2 separate regions of the Homo sapiens genome follow, and region 2 is linked to region 1. Evidence: fine-mapped expression QTL. Tissue or cell type: cerebellar hemisphere. Region 1 holds a variant in brackets; the other region holds the start of a gene. All regions are shown on one strand. Distances are from middle to middle.

Region 1 (10,870 bases):
CAGTGGCGCCATCTCAGCTCACTGCAACTTCCACCTCTCGGGTTCACATGATTCTCCTGCCTCAGCCTCCTGAGTAGCTGGGATTATAGGTGCCACCACCACACCCGGCTAATTTTTGTATTTTTAGTAGAGACGAGGTTTCATCATGTTGGCCAGACTGGTCTCGAACTCTTGACCTCGTGATCTGCCCACCTCGGCCTCCCAAAGTGCTGGGGTTACAGGCGTGAGCCACTGCTGCTGCCCAGCCAGGATGTCACTTTCAAGAATAGGTTACAAAAAGACTGACCTCTCTCCTGGGCATACCTCCCTCTCTCTCTCTCCCTCTCTTGGACAGTTCTCTCTGAAGAAACCAGCTGCCAGTGAGCTTGGAAGCAGACCCTTCCCTGGTTAAGCCATAAGGTGTCTGCAGCCCCAGTGGACACCTTCACCATAGTCTCGTGAAAGACCCAGAGCCAGGGACACCCAGCTAAGCTACACTTGGATTTCTTACCCACAGAAAGTGTGAAATAATAATTTTTTAAAAAGTGTTGTCTTAAGCCACTGGGTATTGGTGTAATTTAAGTTACTGTTGTTACAGTAAAAATTTAATAATCTTGAAATTATTTAGGAGGAGGAGAAGAACTCAAGTATTGGCATATCTTTACAACACAGAAACTTTCAAGCCACCTTGGGACTGTTTTATTTTGAATTAAATTAAATTAAATGTAATGGGACCATTGTAGAATTAACTTTAATGTCATTCAGCCTGGACCTACTCTGGGCATATTTGCTGCTGATAAAACCACTTTAATTTGTATGTCTTTAATTCTCTGGGCATTGCAGAAAAAGAAAAAATAGAAAAATAAAATAAAACCTGATTGCCCATAATTTCTACTGTGTTTACGTATGCACCGGAAGAAACTGTAATTTACAAACTGAAAGAAATAGTACAACATCTCGTTGGTACTATTTTTACTTGCATCTAATGGATGTGCAAAGGAAATGCTGAAGACTCCCTAGAGATATTGAAAAAATACTTTACTACCCCCAAGTGGACATGTAAGTTATATTTACTGAAATAAAATGTAAAATTGGCATTGTCATCCAAAAAACAGGTATGAAATGATTATATAACAGACTCAGAATCTCAGAGCTGGTAAGAATTTTAAAATTTAGAACTTTAAAATATAGAACCTTAGAACTGGTGAGATATTTGAATTCCCTCTACAATCTATCTTATGCTTGTACATTTTTTCATTATGTAAGTTTGCTGGCTACCAAGGCAGCTCATTCCCTTTTCAGACAGCTTAATTTGAGTTGTTCTCATAAGTCTTTATTTCTCTTGAAAACTGCCTGCAAACCATGCAAGATCTTTCATGTCATCTATACCATTCTTAATGTTATCAGTGACTTACAAAAAGGGAGATACTATAAATTTCCAGACAGCATATTTAAATAACACAGAAAACTGAATTTTAATCTTTCTTGAGTGTAACCCTAAAAAGTCCTCCAACTATTGTTTCCTTATGTAAATGATTCAATCAATTCTGACACACAAAGGGCCCCTACAATCTTTCAGACTCTCCAGGTTTTCTAGATCTGGTTTATGAGTCATGTCTCAGAGAGTTCAGTTTGCCAAAATTTCAAACTAAAAGTCTAGGCCAACTCCTTATCTGTGTCAGAGGTTTCCAAAGATGATAGGTAGCATGATTTAACTCAAGCGTAGTTATCAGCCTGGAGTTTTACTCCAGCCTTTTCTACTGAGTAGGGCAGAACTACGCAACAGCTTAAGGACTCCTTTTGCTTCTCCAGCTAACGTTGAGACCATTGTTTCTCAAATTATGACCAGTGGACTACCTGTTTGTGAACCAAGTGGGAGTTTAAAAAAAAAAATGCAGGCTCCTGAGTCTGCTGAAATGCAATCTTTCAGCTGGAGTACTGTGATGGGAATTAGTATTAATCAAAAATCTCCAGTAAATTCTTATGCCCACTAAAAATCGAGTGGGTTGTTTCCAGAAGATTGGTCTCACTATGAGTTCTGTGAAAAACAAAGGATATTGAATTCAGATAAGTTAGGGAACGTCAGCAAACTGTAGGGAAAGAATGTACTACAGCATCCTGTTACTGTGCCTGTTACTTTTGCTCATGCCTTTTAATTGTCTGTCAGCAGTAAAGAAGGAAGAATTACATATCATATTATTCAGAGTTTTGGGATAGTGACTGGACTGTAATGATGATTCGATGCAATCACTGTGTCTTAAAAGCATAAACAAGGCTGCAGTGCTCTCCCACACATCCATTTACACAGCTGTTTCTGTGCAGATGTGGCTGATTGTTGTCTCTTCTTTCTCTCTCCTCCAGATACATAAGTTAGACCAAGGCCGGTGAAGACCTCTGCCATATTGCTCTCCATCCATTTACTCAGCTTCCTTTATCCATGAGCCTGGCATGAGATAGTAATATTTAAAGACTTAAACCAGGGGAAGATAGGAAGCCCCTTGTATGCCTTAAATTACATATTATGTGTTTTAACATTATCATTTACAGGGGAGCCCTATATTGGGGCATTGGCTACTTGAAGAACTATTAATAAAATGGTTTTTCCTTATAGATTTTACTTATCCAGAATTCTATGAAAAGAAGAGGTGTCTTCCAGGCCAGGATCTAGGCATTTTTAGAATTCAGAACTAAATTCCCCTCCTAATTGCCCTAAGATCTTATCTTTAAGCCTACAAAGAACACTTTACCTTCCTTTTAGAGACTCATAATTCATAGTGGCACATGTAAGCCTCCATGAGTCCTACACATTGAATAAATTTGCTTACCCTCACTTAATTTGAAATTTTCCAATCCTGTGTGCTCATGGTACCCCACTGAGGTAATGTCACTGAGGGCACATTTTGGGAAATGTTAGTGTAAATGAGGAAGTTAGCAAACATTTTCTATAGAGAGCTAGATAGCAAATATCTTAGGCTTTTACAGCCATATACTTTCTGTCACAACTACTCAGTGCTGACATTGTAGCACAAAAGCAGGCATTGACAATATGAAAATAAATAAGCATGGCTGTGTTCCAATAAAGCTTTATTTACAAAAACAGATGGCAGATTTACAAAACTTTATTTACAAAAACAGATTGGCCTGTGGGTTGTAGTTTGCTGACCCCTGGTATACACTAAAAACAGTCAAGTGATTTTTTGTTTGCTTTTTGTTTTTCTGTCGTTTTTTCTTCTAGGTCCACAACCTGATTCCATTTTTAAAGCCTTATTTCTTTGATGAGGAAAAATATTGGAGGTAAAAAACAGAATTGATTCATCTTTTTAATATAAAACAATTAGACTTTGTTATAGCTTTCATTTTCATTATTTTGATTACCCCCACCTTTTCCATCTGCAACAAGGCATTCTTGCCAGGACAACTGGCTTTCGGGAAATTAAAATTCAGAAGCACTAGGCAGAAACCCAAAATGGGAGAAAACAATGTCAGGGCCAAGAAAGGATAGGCAAGACAGAGAGA[G/C]AGAGATCCTAAAACGGACGAGAGAGCCTTTGCCCCAGTGTGTTTCTACTGTTTTTCCCCCGTGCCTCCCTCTAGAGCCTTTACTTTAAGCAAAGTGGCCTGGCTGGTCTCCCCAGAGTCCATTTTGTCCCCATCCATACAGAAGGTCTTTCTTTTCCCTGAGCATAGGGAGAAGTTAATGGAATGGAGAGAGGAGAATAATAAGTCAATTTCTTCCTATCTTTTGTGTGTTGTTTTAAAAATAATATGTTAATACTTTAAGTAATTATTCATTTCACGTTATAATCCTTATAATCCCCTCTCATGTATATGCTTCTTTTTTACTAGCAAAATTGCATCAATCTATATTCTCTGTCTCCACATCCTCATATTCCACCTTTTCTTGGAATCACTTCACTCAGGCTTTTCTTTCCATTGCTCCAGGAAAGCCACTCTCATCAAGCTCACCAATGACCTCCAGGTATCAATTATTTATCCTCTTCTTGTTCAACTTCTCAGCAGCATTGATTTTTTAAAATTCTCCTCTCTATTGAAACACTTTCTTTCTTGACTCCCTGAATACCACTCTCACCTTCTGACCACTTCTCAAACATTTCTGCACTACACTCTAATCCAAGCTACCTTCTTCTCCCACCTGGTCTATCAAATAGCTTCTTAACCGGTTTTTATTTTTTTATTCCACTCTTGCTGCCCCCACTTCTGACTGTTCTCCACGGAGGAGACCCTCCTGGTTGATTTGATGCTTTAAACCACCTTAATCTGTTCAAAATCTACTAATGGCATGCCAACATATTTAAAACAAAACCCAGACCCACTGCATGGCCTACAATGTAAAATGTGGTCCCAACAACCCTCTGCCTTCTCCCCCATCCCACTGCATATGAGTTACACTAGGCTACTTCTGGCTTATTTATCACGGCCTTTGCACTTGCTGTTGAGCTTACCTGTAACATATTTCTCCCAGGTGCATGGATGGCTTGCATCTTCATTTCATGCAGAGCTCTATTCAAGTATCACATCTCAGAAAAACTTTCTCTGACCAACATTTTTAAATTAACCACTCCTTCTTCACTGTCTGTCCCATTTATCCTACTTTAATTTTATTCAAAGTGCTTATCACTTCTAGTTATATATTTATCTGTTTGTTGTTCTGTGTGCCTCTGTAGAAAATAAGTGCCCCCAGGGCTCTTCACTACTGTATCCCCAGCATTTAGAATATTTCCTAGAACACAGTTGGTTGGTAGATATTTGTTGAATAGGCTTGGTACTGGGACATAAAACATTCGTAAGGTATAATACTTTGTATTAAGGCTATATAAATCTAATCCAAGATGTGGAATAGGAAATGGTGGAGAGTCATGCATACAACTACAAAGATGCAAGACAGAGTATCTGGTATCCAAAAAGGAATAAGTAAAATTTTATGAGAGCATGGTTCACTTCAAAATTACCCCTATGACTAGGGGAAGGGTTTATGGAGAGGATGACATTAAGCTTAGAACATTAGATAATGCATAGTATTTTGTCTGAGAAAGGAAGAAGGAACAGCATGAAAAATGCTAGAAAGGTAAGAAAGCATCTTCATTCATTTATTTAATGAATATTTATTGATTTTCTATTATGAGCTTGCTAGGCATTGTTTTAAATGTTGGAGATTCAGGAATTGAATACGAGAAGAATACAAATTACAACCTCAAAAAGTTTACATTCTAAGGAGAATAGTCAATAAAAAATAAGCAAAGAAATATACAAATAATTTTAGATTATGACATAAGCAGGATTATAATAACATATTGGAGGATGGGATAAAGAGCTCAAAAGAAATGGGGAGAAAATTAAGGCACTGCTTGGAAATGACTTACCACAGAAGTTCTCTAAGGGAAATTCTAGAACCAAAGGATGAAAAGGAGCCAGCTCTGTGCAGAGGTGAAGGAACATCATACCAAGATGAGAGAACAGCAAGGTCGCAGGCCCTGGAGTGGGGAAGTGAACAGTCATTCACATGTTCACTGACTATTTCTGGTTTCCTACCTCACAGGCACAATGTAGGATTGCTCTTCCTTGTTCTTGAATTAGATGGGGACACATGACTAGTTCTAGCCTCTAAATTATAAGTAGAAGTAATGAGTATCAACTGCTGATACAAGATCTGCCAGAGGATGTTTTCCCTGTAGCATAACAACTAACAATTGTTGAGATCAATGGCAGCTTCATCATCCTAGATCCCTGAGTGACTGCAATAAACAGAGCCCCTCTGTGATCCATAGTAAACAGACAATAACATTTGGGTACTCTGTGTGTGTGTGTGAACACATGTTTTCTTTCTCTTGGGTAGTTATCTAGGAATGAAATTGCTGGGTCATATGGTAACTCTATGTTTAAGAAACTGCTGAGACGTTTTCCAAGTAGCTATATCATTTAACTCCCACCAGCAATGTATAAAGTTTCCAATTTCTCCACATCCTCACCAATACTTGTTATGTCTTTATTTTTATTTGTTATTATAGCCATTCTAGTGGGTGTGAAGTGGTACATCATTGTGGTTTTGACTTGCATTTCCATAATTAACACACAATTTTGTTTATATCGGGCAAAAATAGGTGCAAGGAGACCACTGAAGAGGCCCTTTCAAAAGATCAGATGACAGATGACAGACAAGGTGGTAACAGTGAAGAGGGTATGAACTTCCACACAGCACAAAGGATTTGCCTAAACATTGTGCTAAGAGACGTGACCAAACTTTAGCCTGGCTGCCACCTGCACTATACCATGTCCCTTAAGGTGACACACAATGCCACCAAACCATGAAATATACATTGTTCCAACCCACAATCCCAAACCATTTTCAGTAATTCTTCACGTACTGCCCTCTGTAATTTTCTATTGCTCCACAGCTCCCTTAATCTTTTTTTTTATTTCCTCCTTTTTACTTCCCCAGAGCTCCTTTGTGTTTTCTCTGTTTTCCCTTTAAAACCCTCTGTCACATTTGTCTTAGCTGGAGTTGAGCTCAGTGTATACTGTGTCTCTCTCCCCTGTTGAAGTAGTCTGAATAAAATCTGTCTTGCCAACTTTAATAAATGTCTGGTATTGGTCCCTTTTGACAAGGGAAAGAAGATATATTTCAGAAACAGAATGAAATGTCATGCTGAAGAATTATATGCAGGGAATGAAAGTAAGTAACAAATCAAGGTTGACTTCTGGGTTCTTGGGTTGAGTAGCTGAGTGGGTTGAGGGTGTCAATTACTAAGATGAGAAAGTGTTGAAGAGGAACCTGAAAGAAGAAAAAAGAGAAATTTTAAAACATTGTTTTGAAAACGTGAATTTGACATACCTATAATATATCCAATTAGAGATAGTAAAGAGTCAGCTGGATATATAAATCTGGAACACAGGAAAGAATATAGTATTGTAGTTATAAATTTCAGGGCCATCTTTGTCCATTTGGCATTTAAAGTCATGGAGTGAATGAGGTCACTGTATGTGAATGTGTAGACAGAGAAGATCATCCAGAACCAACAGGTAGAGAAGTCTAAGAACTAAAGGTAGGATTGAGAAGAAAGAAACAGTAAACAAAAAGACAAAAAAGGATGATTAAAGAGGCAAGAGGAATATTAAGAGAGAGTGGTATTCTAGAAAACAAAAGAACAGCTTCAAGAAGAGGTCAATAGTAAATGGTGAAAAAAAGAGTTCAAAGAAATGTCCACCTGTTTTGGCAACAGGATTATCATGCACAGAAAAGGTTTTGGAGAAGTAATGATGGTAAAAGCAAGATTGGAGTAGATTAAAGAAACAGTGGAAGACAGGGAACCTGATGCAATGAATACAGAACACTCCTTTAAGATTATTTACTATGAAGAAGAAGAGAGAAATATGATGATGAAGAAGTAGAATGTGGATCATGGGAGGGCAATGTAAAATGTGAGAACCCACAGTGTATTCATATGCAATTGGAATAATTTGGTTAAAAGGAAGAAACTGTGCTGTCAGAGGTAGGGGAAACCACAGAAGTGAATCATTGAGGAAGTTACAGTCTCTGGCACCGAGAGCACAGGAGACTGACCCTTGGTAGAAGCAATGAAAAGATGGAAAACATAAATATAGATCCAAACAAAGGTATGTTCTGGATTTGATAATGTGTATATGAGAAAGTCCCCCCTGCTTCTATTTGTTCAGGCAAGGTTATCAGATATGGGGACAGGGATGGTAAGACACCTGAGGGAGTAAAGTATGAAAGAATTGTCCTGACAAGGAGAAACCATGCTTACCAGGATGAAAATTCTAGGCAGTGTGAGGTCCATTTGAAGTCTGACATCTTGAAATTAAGCTGCAATGGGTCACCCTACCATATGTGTGTTTTTCATTTGGGTACAAATGCTCATCTGTTTAAATTCAGGTTCAGACACGGTAAATAATTAAATTCAATCTGAATTGGGTTTAGCCATACCAACATATCAGAGGGCTAGAAAGGCAATGTCATTGAGGATGTTTACAAGGGAATGATTACCATGATGAACAAGAGCGTCTAAACTGGGTAAAAAGGCAAATGTAGGTAAAAGAATAGTCGGGTAAAATGATGAGGTCAATGCATTGGAGACCCAGTTGGGGTGAAAATATTGTTGTAGAGAGAGGACTAGATGAATCAAGACAAAGAGCACAGAAGCTGGCAATCAGGGAGTAAGATATTTGAAATAAAGATTTCAGAGGTGACACAGTTACTGATGATACAGGTTGAGCACTCCTTTATCGAAATGTTTGGGGCCAGAAGTGTTTTAGATTTCAAATTTTTTTCAGATTTTGGAATATGTGCACTGTACTGATTGAGTATCCCAAATCTGAAAATCTGAAATCCGAAATGCTACAATAAGCATTTCCTTTGAACATCATGTTAGCACTCAAAAAGTTTTAAATTTTGGAGCGTTTCAGATTTATTTTGTGAATTTCGGATGCTCAACCTGTAATAAGGTCTAGGCAATAGTGGGGAGGAAGGCAAGAACACTGGCAGAGATCAATGTGATCCCAGTGGCTCATCTTCTAAGAAGTTAAAGTTATCAGACATTCTGATGGGCACACAGCTTCTGCAAAATTTTTACATTGTATTTAAATTAAGAAGTACATGTTCTTAGCCTACAAAGCCTCAACATTAAAGGCCAAACCCTTGGGTTGCAGATATTTTTAAAAATCTGAAATAAGTTGTCACAACAATATTGAAGTCTGTGAGAATGGTGCTGTGTGAAATTGTCACTGCATAGCTTGTGTAGCTGCATACAGCAGCCCTGTAACCAATGGTTAACCTCATCAACAGTCTAGTCCAGTTATTCTCATCTGGGGATGATCTTCTCTCTCAGGGAAGACCCCAGGGGGATATTTGGCAATGTCTGAAAACATTTTTATTCGTCATAACTTGTGGAGACTGTTATCTAGTGGGAGAACTGATATCTAGTGGACAGAGCAAAGACACTGCTAAACATCCTACAATGGACGTGACAGCCCCGCTGTCTCCTGCAATAATATCTGGCCCAAAATGTCAAAGTTAAACTCTAGTCCTAGAATCTGAGCATTCCCTTTCCTTTCCTCTTACCAGGAAGACATATACATTCTTCAGAAGCAAAATACCACAGTGATTTCTGTATCACTATGGAGCATAGAGTTTGTGCAGACTCCTATCTCTGACCCATTCCCTAATCTCTCCTTTTCCTCCATCCACCTATGTTTCTGATGGCAACTTGTTTTCATCCCTAGCTGAACATAGAGAAAGCAGCTGTAATCACTAAGTCATTCAATTAATTACAGGATGCATAAAATTAAGGTAATTAAGAAGGAAGAATTAGGTCAATCCTTCTCAATTGGCTATACTCAACTTATCTTGTAAGCTGTTAGTCTAATTGTGAAGCCTCCTTGGGCTCTGAAAAATGCCCCAGTGGTATTTCTTGCCTTCTCTGACATTAGCAATTTGCCAAAGGGCTTGCAATGAGAGTTCTATGTTAAGTATCTAATACCTGCAAGGCCAGTTCTGAACACAGTCCTGGCCCTCCTAATCCACAGGTTTTGTACCAACCATGCGTTGAAAATATTCAAATTTTTTTAAAAACTTAAAAATAATAATAAAGCAATAAAAATAATACAAATAAAACATTACAGTGTAACAACTATTTACATAACATTTACATTGTATTAGAAGTATTGTAGAGATTATTTAAAGTATACGGGAGGATGTGCATAGGTTATATCCAAATTACCACAAATGTGATGGCTTAAAACAACAAAAATGTATTATCTTATAGTCCTAGAATAAGAGGACTTGAGAAGTTCAAGATCAAGGTATTGGCTGGGCCCTGCTCCCTCCAAGGCGTCTAGGGGAGAATCCTTTCTTACTTACATCTTCCAGCTCCTGTTGCTCTAGGCATTTGACTTTCTCCAACAGAACTCTACCCTCTGCCTCCATCTTCACATGCCCTTCTCTTCTTCCTGTATCTGCTCCTCTTTTTCTTTTATGAGGACACTTGCCATTGGATTTAGGGACTACCCAGATGATCCAATATGATCTCATCTTGATATCATTAACTTAATAGCATCTGCCAAGACCCCAAGTAAGGTCATATTCAATATTGCTGAGTGTTAACATTTGGATATTCCTTTTATCTTTTTTTTTTTTTTCTTTTTTGAGAGAGAGTCTTACTCTGCTTCCCAGGCTGGAATTCAATGGCACAATCTCAGCTCACTGCAAACTCCACCTCCGGGGTCCAAACGATTCTCATGCCTCAGCCTCCTGAGTAGCAGGGACTGCAGGCATGCACCACCATGCACAGCTAATTTTTATATTTTTAGTAGAGACAGGGTTTCACTACGTTGGCCAGGCTAGTCTCGAATTCCTGGCCTCAAGTGATCCACTCATCTCAGCCTCCCAAAGTGCTAGGATTATAGGTATGAGCCACCGCGCTCAGACAAATTTCGATATTTCTTTTTAGGAGGCACTATTCAACCCACCACAGAACGCATGATCACAAAATGATTAGAAACTGATAATCTGGATATTTTACCAGTCCACCAATAGAACCATCCATTGGTGATGTTTTCAACTTGCCTACCACTTCAATAAAAAGACATAAACCAAGCAGAGGGTGAGGTACTAGAAAGGCACACACCTTGCCATTTCTGTAACCACTTAGCCTGGGGACCTCAAGGATGACTTCAATGGCCTTTCAGAAGTGCTTGAATAAGTTGGTGGAGGTTCAGAAGAAAAGAAGCATTTAATTGAGAGGCCAATTATATTAACCATCTTAAAGCCTTTTAGAATCACTCATTAGTACAGCTCTATTTAGGTGAACAGAGTAACAAAACAGTGCCATTACCCTTAGGAAAGTGAGAAGAGTCAGGG
Region 2 (7,935 bases), 450 kb after region 1:
ACAAGGCTTTGAGTGAATGAACAAACTCAGTAAAAGTATATACTATGTCAAGCCTTCTTAATCCCGAAAGTCTTTATGGACACAGTAGGAGATGAGAGACCCAATGAGAAAAACTGACTGGTCCAGACGCCGTGGCTCATGCCCTAATCCCAACACTTCGGGAGGCCAAGGCAGGCGGATCACCTGGGATCAGGAATTCGAGACTAGCCTGGCCAACATGGTGAAATCCCATCTCTACTAAAAATACAAAATTAGCCAGGTGTGGCAGTGCACACCTATAATCCCAGCTACTCGGAGGCAGGAGAATCGCTTGAACCCAGTAGGTGGAGGTTGCAGTGAGCAGAGACCACGCCACTGCACTCCAGCCTGGGAAACAAGAGCAAAACTCCATCTCAAAAAGAAACAGAGAGAAAGAGAGAAAAACTGACTGAATAAACATGAAATAACATGTAAGGACAGATGAGAAGAAAGTAGAAAAAAGAGGCAGAGATAGTTTGAGAGAAAGATGGAAATGAGGCACAGGGAGATCGCTAAAATTTTCTCACAAACAGTAAGCTGTTAGAGCACCAAGTACAAGTATAGACTTGGCTACAAAAGAAAATTGGGGAGTCTCTGGTCTCTGAGCAGGTCAGCTTTGATATGAAGCATTTTTCATCACAGATCTTAGCTCCACTTCTGTTATTTTAGGTCTCACAGAAAAAAGGGTAGGGAACCATGACCTGAAAGATAGGAGTCCTCCAATCTAGATTCAGTTTTGTTGTGGTATCTTAAGCCAGTCGTTCCCCCTTTCCTGGACCTTGAATAGCTAGTGAAATGGGAGGAAAGGTCTCTTAGTATTTTATGCATCTATTCTTTACAACTAAAATTCTGGTGTCACTGAGATCCCCCAAGTAGTTCTGGGGTCCCTTCTTTAAAGGATAAAGAACAGGTAATTGCTTTGTAAAAAAAAAAAAAAAAAAAAGTAACAAGAGCATTCTGGATTAGGATTAGAAGGATTAGAAAGAGCTGGCAGCAAGCCTCTAATTCTTTGGAGAAAAGACTCTTCCACAGTCCCATTTTCAGGCCTTTATTCATCATACTACAGCACAATTAGGCAAGCTGCTCAGTTGTTCCAAATATCTATCTGTCTTTGCAAAGTATCTTTCAGGCCTGTCAAAGCAGTGTTGAAACATACAGCACTCTCCTCTGTGAATGCCATTATGGACAGAGGCTTGGCATTATATTAATTACATTAGCTGGCTCAGGACAACATAATCTCAGCTGATTAACAACATTCCTTACTCTCTTTCCCCTGTATTTGTGTCCTCTGCCTGAATCTTTTTGTTCTTTTGTTTATTCACTCATTCATCCTTGCAATAAATATTTACTGAGCCCTTAGTATCTGATACTGATATGTGATATATATCAGTATATATTAGTAATAAAAACGGGTAAACTCTCTTCCCTCATAGATTTTCCTGACTTTCTTTCTGCATTTCCTTTATCTTAATTGAAACAAACAAAAAAATAGTTGAAACACCCTTTAGCTATAATTAGGGTGCTTGTGTTCTTGTCCCAGCTGCGCTATGAGTCTAAGGGGTAAGTCTATTAACCTCTCTGTATATAATTTTCCTCTTCTGTACTCGAAATGTTGAACAAGACTATCTTAAAGAATTTCTCACATGGACTTTTTCAGTAGCTCCTAACTAGTCTCCCTGCTTTCATTTTGCTCCTGCCATCCCAGAAATTTTATTCTTGGAGGTAGTACCTGCTCTAGTCCCCAACTTCCTCTCTAATCTCATCTTCTATCACTGTTCCCTGCACTCACTCTGTCCAGGCACACTGGTCTCCATGCTGTTTCTTGTACACTCCAAACATACTCCCCTCTCCGGGCTTTTACATTTGCTTTTCCCACTGCTTAGAAAGCTTTCCATACCTGCCCCCAAGGTTCACATGACTCATTCCTTCACTTCCTTCAATTACATAAATGCCTTTTCAGGAGCCATTCTCTGATATGATCACCTTACATAAAATAGCACCTCCATGCCACTCTCTGCCCTGCCTTTTTCTTTTTAGTTCTTATGACTGCCTAACTCATCATATATTTCCTTGTTTGTCTTGTTTTCCTCCAATAGAAGATGCATACCTTTAGAATAGGGCTCTTGGCTTGTTTTGTTCCCTGCTATATCCCCAGTGCCAAGAATAGTACCAGATACACAGTAAATGCTCAATAAATGTTTGTTGAATGAATAAAATAATGAATCTTTTCTAGTAATAAAATAAGTCTCACCGTGTGTCAAAATTTATTCATACTTAGTAGGGCTCAAATCTGGCTACTAGGATCTATAAGAGACCAGTCAAGTATTAGAACTACGCTGGAGTCAGACTACACAGAAAAGTTACCAATAGAAATGAGCCATTAGCTGAAGCCAATCCATTCCATTCCTTGAAGATTTTTGTTTCATAGCATGGTAAGCTACAATAAGGTTAGACTTAAATATTTATTCTATGCAGTTTCTTGCAGTGAGAAAAGTGGCATTACTACCCTCATTTCACTTAGGCCTGGAGTTTAGTCATTTATCCAACATAACCAACCTTTTTGAAGCAGAGATAAAATAAGGACATAAATCCCTGACGGCCAAGCCCACAGTTGTTTATTTTCAATAGTGACCTAAACAAGAACAAAAAGATCTGTACAGGCATAAATATGTGATATGTAGGGTAAAAAGTGTAGATTAACATGAGGGACTCTTCCCACTGAACTTCTGAAGCAACTGCATGTTCCAAAAGTTTATCTTATATACTGTTTATTTTATACACTATCAGTATATACTGTGTTGTTTATCTTATATACTGTCATATCCCCAATACTTGGCACATGCTCATTTCATGTGTACTGATTAAATGAAAGTATCAGCCTCATAGTAAACAGAGGCCTATTAACAAACAGGTGCCCCTCCACCACCCCAGGTAATAATTACTCTTACCTCCTGCACAGGCCACAGCCTTGGAGCCACTCACACTCATGAACAGCAACACACACTCAGCACCCCTTGAAGGAAAAGAAAAACAAATTTCCACATACTGCATCACACCTGGCTATGCAGGTATTTCCTAGTCAGATGAGGAACCAGGACAAAATTGCCAGCTTACGGCTTGTTTCAGTACTTCTAGGACCACCACAAAGACACACATAGATACATACACATCTATGTGTATGTAGAGAAAGACCCATTTACAAATACAAACGTACAAATACACATATGCATATCAAAATCACTTCAGAATTAGGCACGATACAAATCATAAATAAATTTGTATACACAGTAACCTACAAGCTGGTTTTGCCCTAGCATACTCACAAATGTACACAAACACATACGCAAAGATAATACTTACCTCAAGGTTTGACTGTGAAAAGTAAATGAGATTATGTGAATTCACAGTAATTTCTGACACATAGAAACCATGCTAATAAAGGTTAGCTCTTGATTACATATATAAAAATACATATATTATACATTATATTTAAATTTGTATCCAACTCATATTAATATACACCTTCAAAACAAAATTTCCTTTTCAGTCACTATGCAGAATATCATGGAAATTCTAGACTGTGGGAGCCAATAACAGAACCGGTAGTGTGGGGTATGCTATTGTAGTACAGGGGGAGGGGAGGGGAAATCCTACTGGTAAGAGGCTAGTAAACAAGACTTTTCAGATCCTTTCTGCTTGGGAGAAGGCCTAGCCTTGGAGGGAGCTGAGCTGATGAGTATTCTTGGGAGATCAGCCAAAGGAGTTTCTAACGTTATTGGGTAAGGAGGAGGGGTTGTCCTCTCTCAGTAGCCTTGGGCGAGAGAGTCCCCAGAGTCCCAATGAGTTCAAATCAGCCAGAAAATCCTTTAAAGTATTTATCCTATAGTCCCACAGCTTGGGGAAAATCTGATTAACTCCATCTCACCAGATGGGCTTTACAGTGAAATGTATAGCTGGTTTCTAAGATTCAAATAAGGTGGGAAAACAGAGGAAGAAATAACGAAATGTGAGTCATAACACATCCCTGTGTGTACAACTTGGCTCTGCCATCAATTTGGAGCAAGCCACAGCTCTGTGAGGCTCAGTTTCCCCAGCATATAAAAGGCGAATAAAACTGTCTCCTGTCCAGTTGGAAGAAGGTGCTTTTATTCCCTCTCAAAAGGGTGCCAGCCACAACACCTCCCACTCAACGCTGGAAACTGCTCAAAGAATTTCTCTCGTATTTCCCTGCTGCGGTGACCCTGGAGGGGGTCTTTATCCACCAGACTTCTTTTTGGATATTCCTCCTTTCTTTCTAGGGCCAAATATTATAACTTCAGAGCTCTTTTAAAAAAAATCAGGGATCTGGTTCAACTCTTCCCTTTTAAAAGGATAAATTGAGCCCAGAGCACGTCTTAACAAGGAACCATGTGTTTTACTCACATACAACTGCATTCTTTAAAAATCAAGGCAACCTTTTGAGAGACCTAGAGAGATTAATTCCATATCCTCTCTCACCCCACCGCTTACACGGAAAGAAGCTTGGGGGTAGGAAGGGGATTGCGCAGATCTCGTCCAGCACTCTAAGCGTTAAATTCAACCCGGAGTCTAACAGGCTATTGGCCGAATACCGGGAGAAGATCTGGTTTTCGTAGCCGCGGGCCAATGAACACCTCGAGTGGGAGGGTTTGAAGATACTAAGGAGTTTTCCCCCTTTTTTTTTCCCCCTCAACCCCCTCCCATCGGCTATCACCCCTCCCATCCCCCACGCCTCCAGTTTGTTAAATTAATGCAGTAAGAAAGTCTGAAGATCTGAAGGAGTCTTGACCAAGGGAAGATGAGCGAGCTCAGAAAACCGAGATGCATCTGAGACATTGGGCTTCAGAGCCCCGCGGGGTAGCCAGGGACCCCGGTAGCCCCTGAAACTTGCCCTGGGCTCTCTGACGCCTGCGGCCCCGAGCAATGGGACACCTTTTCTGCAGTGATCACAACTTATTCGGCGGGGACCGGGAAACAGGAATAGCAAGGCGACAGCAGACCCGCACAGAGGCAGGAGAACGAGATTCCGAGACTGGATTGCGATGCGCCAGCCTGGCACACTCTCCGAGATTTAACTGAAGGCAGCGCCGTCAACCGCTTTCCCCTCGCCCCTAACCCCCTCAGGCCGGCCCAGAGCCATAAAGCTCTGTTCTCTTTACCCAAGATGCTCGCCCAATCCAACGGTCCGAGGCCAGCGCTCTGATCTCCACAGAAGATTTTTTTCCTTGCAGGGAGCTGGCCGTTTAAACAGAAAAACAGGGGTTTAAAAAAAAAAAAAAAAAAAAGGAAATATACCCACCCCCAAACGTGCCTCCCCAGCGCCGCAGGGAGCCAACAGACACGCTGGAGTTTAACAAACAGCAATACTCTTCGCGCTCCTGAAAAGCAGGTCTGGACGCTCTCCGTGGTGCTGAAACGCCTCGCAGCCGCCGCTGTCCGTGGTATCTACGACCCCCTCGCTCCAATTTCCCCTGGGGCTCTCCCTCCGCGCCCCTGTTCCCCGCCTCCCTTTAACATCTGGATTATTTTTTGCAATAGCGCTTTCTGGTTTTGTAAGTGCCAATTTGAAACATTTTTGCCCCCATAACTCGTGGACTACAAAGCACAAGGACCTGAAAAATGTACAGCTTCAATACTCTTCGACTCTACCTTTGGGAGACCATTGTATTCTTCAGGTATGCAATTTTCTACTGACCACATCGCTCTGATGGAAATGGGGGGAAAGAGTACGGAGGCTACCTCTGTCCGTGGTCCCATCATTTTGGGGAAGAGGGGTGCTGTATTCCACTGCAATCGGGTCCTTCCATCCCCCGTCTCCCTTCTCCCCCCTCCCACCCCCCGCCACCCACCCCACCCCCGCCCGCAGGGTGTCTGGCTTGTGCGTGGAGGTCTGAGACAGTCGCTGTTCTGGCAGCTGTTTGCCTGTTTCTTACGGTTTGTTTGTCCTTCTGTCTGCTACACCCCCCACTATTGGTCCCCAGCCCCACTGCATGTTGGCTTTCACTCGGCTGAGGACTTTAAAGGGAAGCTTTAGGAGTTACTCAGTTTAATTAGGACTGCATTCTCCCTAACCGCAGTGCCGAAAACCTCAGCTTTCCCGTCTGGGAGCCAAGTGACAACTAGCGGTGACGGGGAAGGTTGCACTCAAACTCGCTGGACACAGATCATTTCATTTTCTGTCCTTTTTTGCTGTTGTTTTCTTTTTCTGCGAAGAGGGAGGGGGATTACTAAGGCTGAGTGCTTGGAAACAATAGTATTATAACCTCAGTGTGTAAAGCCCTGAACTTGGGTGCAGAGTGGATCTATTTAGGAACATACTGGGAAACATTTCCCTTTTGAAACTTTGACTGCCTCTTTCCCCAACCCACCTTTCCAAACTCTGTTAGCTGCAGATCCTGAACTCATGAGCAATCTTCATTTGCTTTGTTTTTAAATTTATGCTTATATTTGACTCAACAGCTGAGTTATCCCATCCACTGTCTCTCAGGTTAAAATTTTCTGCCTGAAGACTTGTCTTTCTTATGTTAGTAGAAGTGAAAAGTGAAAAATCACCTCTTTAAGAAGCATTGAAATAGATAGTCCTTTAGTAAGTGTGTGAATCATACCATCTTCAGAGATGGCTATGATAAATTCCACTTATATGAATTGAAAAACATTATTCTTCTTCCATGACATGCAGGGATCATTAATCTTCCTCATTTTAGATGCCTGCCTCTCATATTTTACTGTGGCATTGGATTAACAGTCATTTGAAAAACCCACCCCAAATTGTTTTTAAAAATAAGTGGTCACCAAATATTACCCTCTCCCAACATAAAACAGCAAATAATTTTTGTTTTATTACAGTTCATAGGAATTGCTGATTTGACTAATCTGTTGGCTGGTTTATTAAATGACACCTCCCCTCAAATAGTAAGTTTCTGTATTTCAGTCTCTTTTCATGTCTCTTGAGATGAAGAAAAGGCATCCCCCCTTATCTGAGATACCCAATGCTAAAGCTTCTAATCTCCTGTTCAAACAATTATTTTGTAGGCCACAGAGTCCTGACCACAGATCAGACTGCAAATAGTCAGAGAGTCAGATAGAATGAAAAAGTACAACAATCCAGGGCCTTATGAAACGTATCAAAATGTGGCTACTTTATGGGGGAAAGGGCAGGAAGTATTCTATTTATAATATGAGATCCTTTATCCCCTGCATATTTAATAGAACTACAAATGTATGGAGGTTGGGTACTTTGTAACATTTGTATGCAAATTGATTCTCTGCTTGGTCTACAGGAGACAGAACTGAACCAGAGAGATTTAAGAGCAAATTAATAGAACCAAGCACATCTTTCTCCCCACACACACTCTCTCTTTTTTTCTTGATGAGCAGTATGCAATGCTTGATTTTCCTCTCCAGACATTGTCTTTCACAAAAGGGAGACTCAGTCTAAAAGGTCTGGATTGTAGTCATTTTGATAAGGTTATGAATCCACTGTGTTAATTCTTCAACTAAGCTGGTGGTGGCCTAACAGAAAACATCATTCTACATCTCTTTCCCCTACGTGCGTGAACGCACACATGAGCTACAATGGATGTGGGATATAATTCTACGTGTTTATAAGGAAAGAAGAGTTATAACTGTGGAGAGCTGGAAATGTGGGTGGCACCACTGCACTTTCAAAATATAGGAACGGCTACTTCATTAGGGGAGTAAATGTTGATTTTTGAAACACAATACAGACAATAATTGAACTCAGGAAATTCAGCAATTTTTCAGAGAGATTAAAAAAAGGTCACAAGGAAGCAAAGTGAGCAGATTGTATTTGTTCAATTGGTATTTTCATTTCTAAGTCACTCACTTTTAAAATTCCAGGTGAAAATACAGAAGCATTATAATGTGAGGACTTATTAG

Which allele goes with the higher level. Positions count from the first base shown, and alleles are read on the strand shown. Sizes are in standard deviations (SD) of each study's normalised expression.
For the expression in cerebellar hemisphere of the gene that starts at base 5,354 in region 2, allele G in region 1 goes with a higher level than allele C (moderate effect, 0.69 SD a copy in GTEx).

The links. PIP is the estimated chance that this variant, and not a neighbour inherited with it, causes the effect. A credible set is the group of variants that fine-mapping cannot tell apart.
Region 2: it holds the start of GLRA1, and the variant in region 1 is the best candidate, but not a certain one, in a credible set for the expression of GLRA1 in cerebellar hemisphere (GTEx, PIP 0.53).

Annotation. Positions count from the first base shown.
Region 1 is chr5:152,369,701-152,380,570 of GRCh38, reverse strand. It overlaps LOC105378237 (a long non-coding RNA gene), which reads right to left. Exons shown (of 3, transcript XR_944433.2): 2 at 5,358-5,468; 3 at 2,130-2,422. Among named protein-coding and RNA genes, the nearest start is that of NMUR2, 30 kb to the left of the region's middle. RefSeq lists enhancers at 353-522, 3,412-3,581, 10,232-10,401 and a cis regulatory region at 3,496. The variant G/C (reference allele first, on the strand shown) is at 3,496.
Region 2 is chr5:151,922,270-151,930,204 of GRCh38, reverse strand. It overlaps GLRA1 (glycine receptor alpha 1), which reads left to right and starts at 5,354. Exons shown (of 9, transcript NM_000171.4): 1 at 5,354-5,711. The coding sequence starts at 5,656. RefSeq lists a silencer at 4,862-5,074.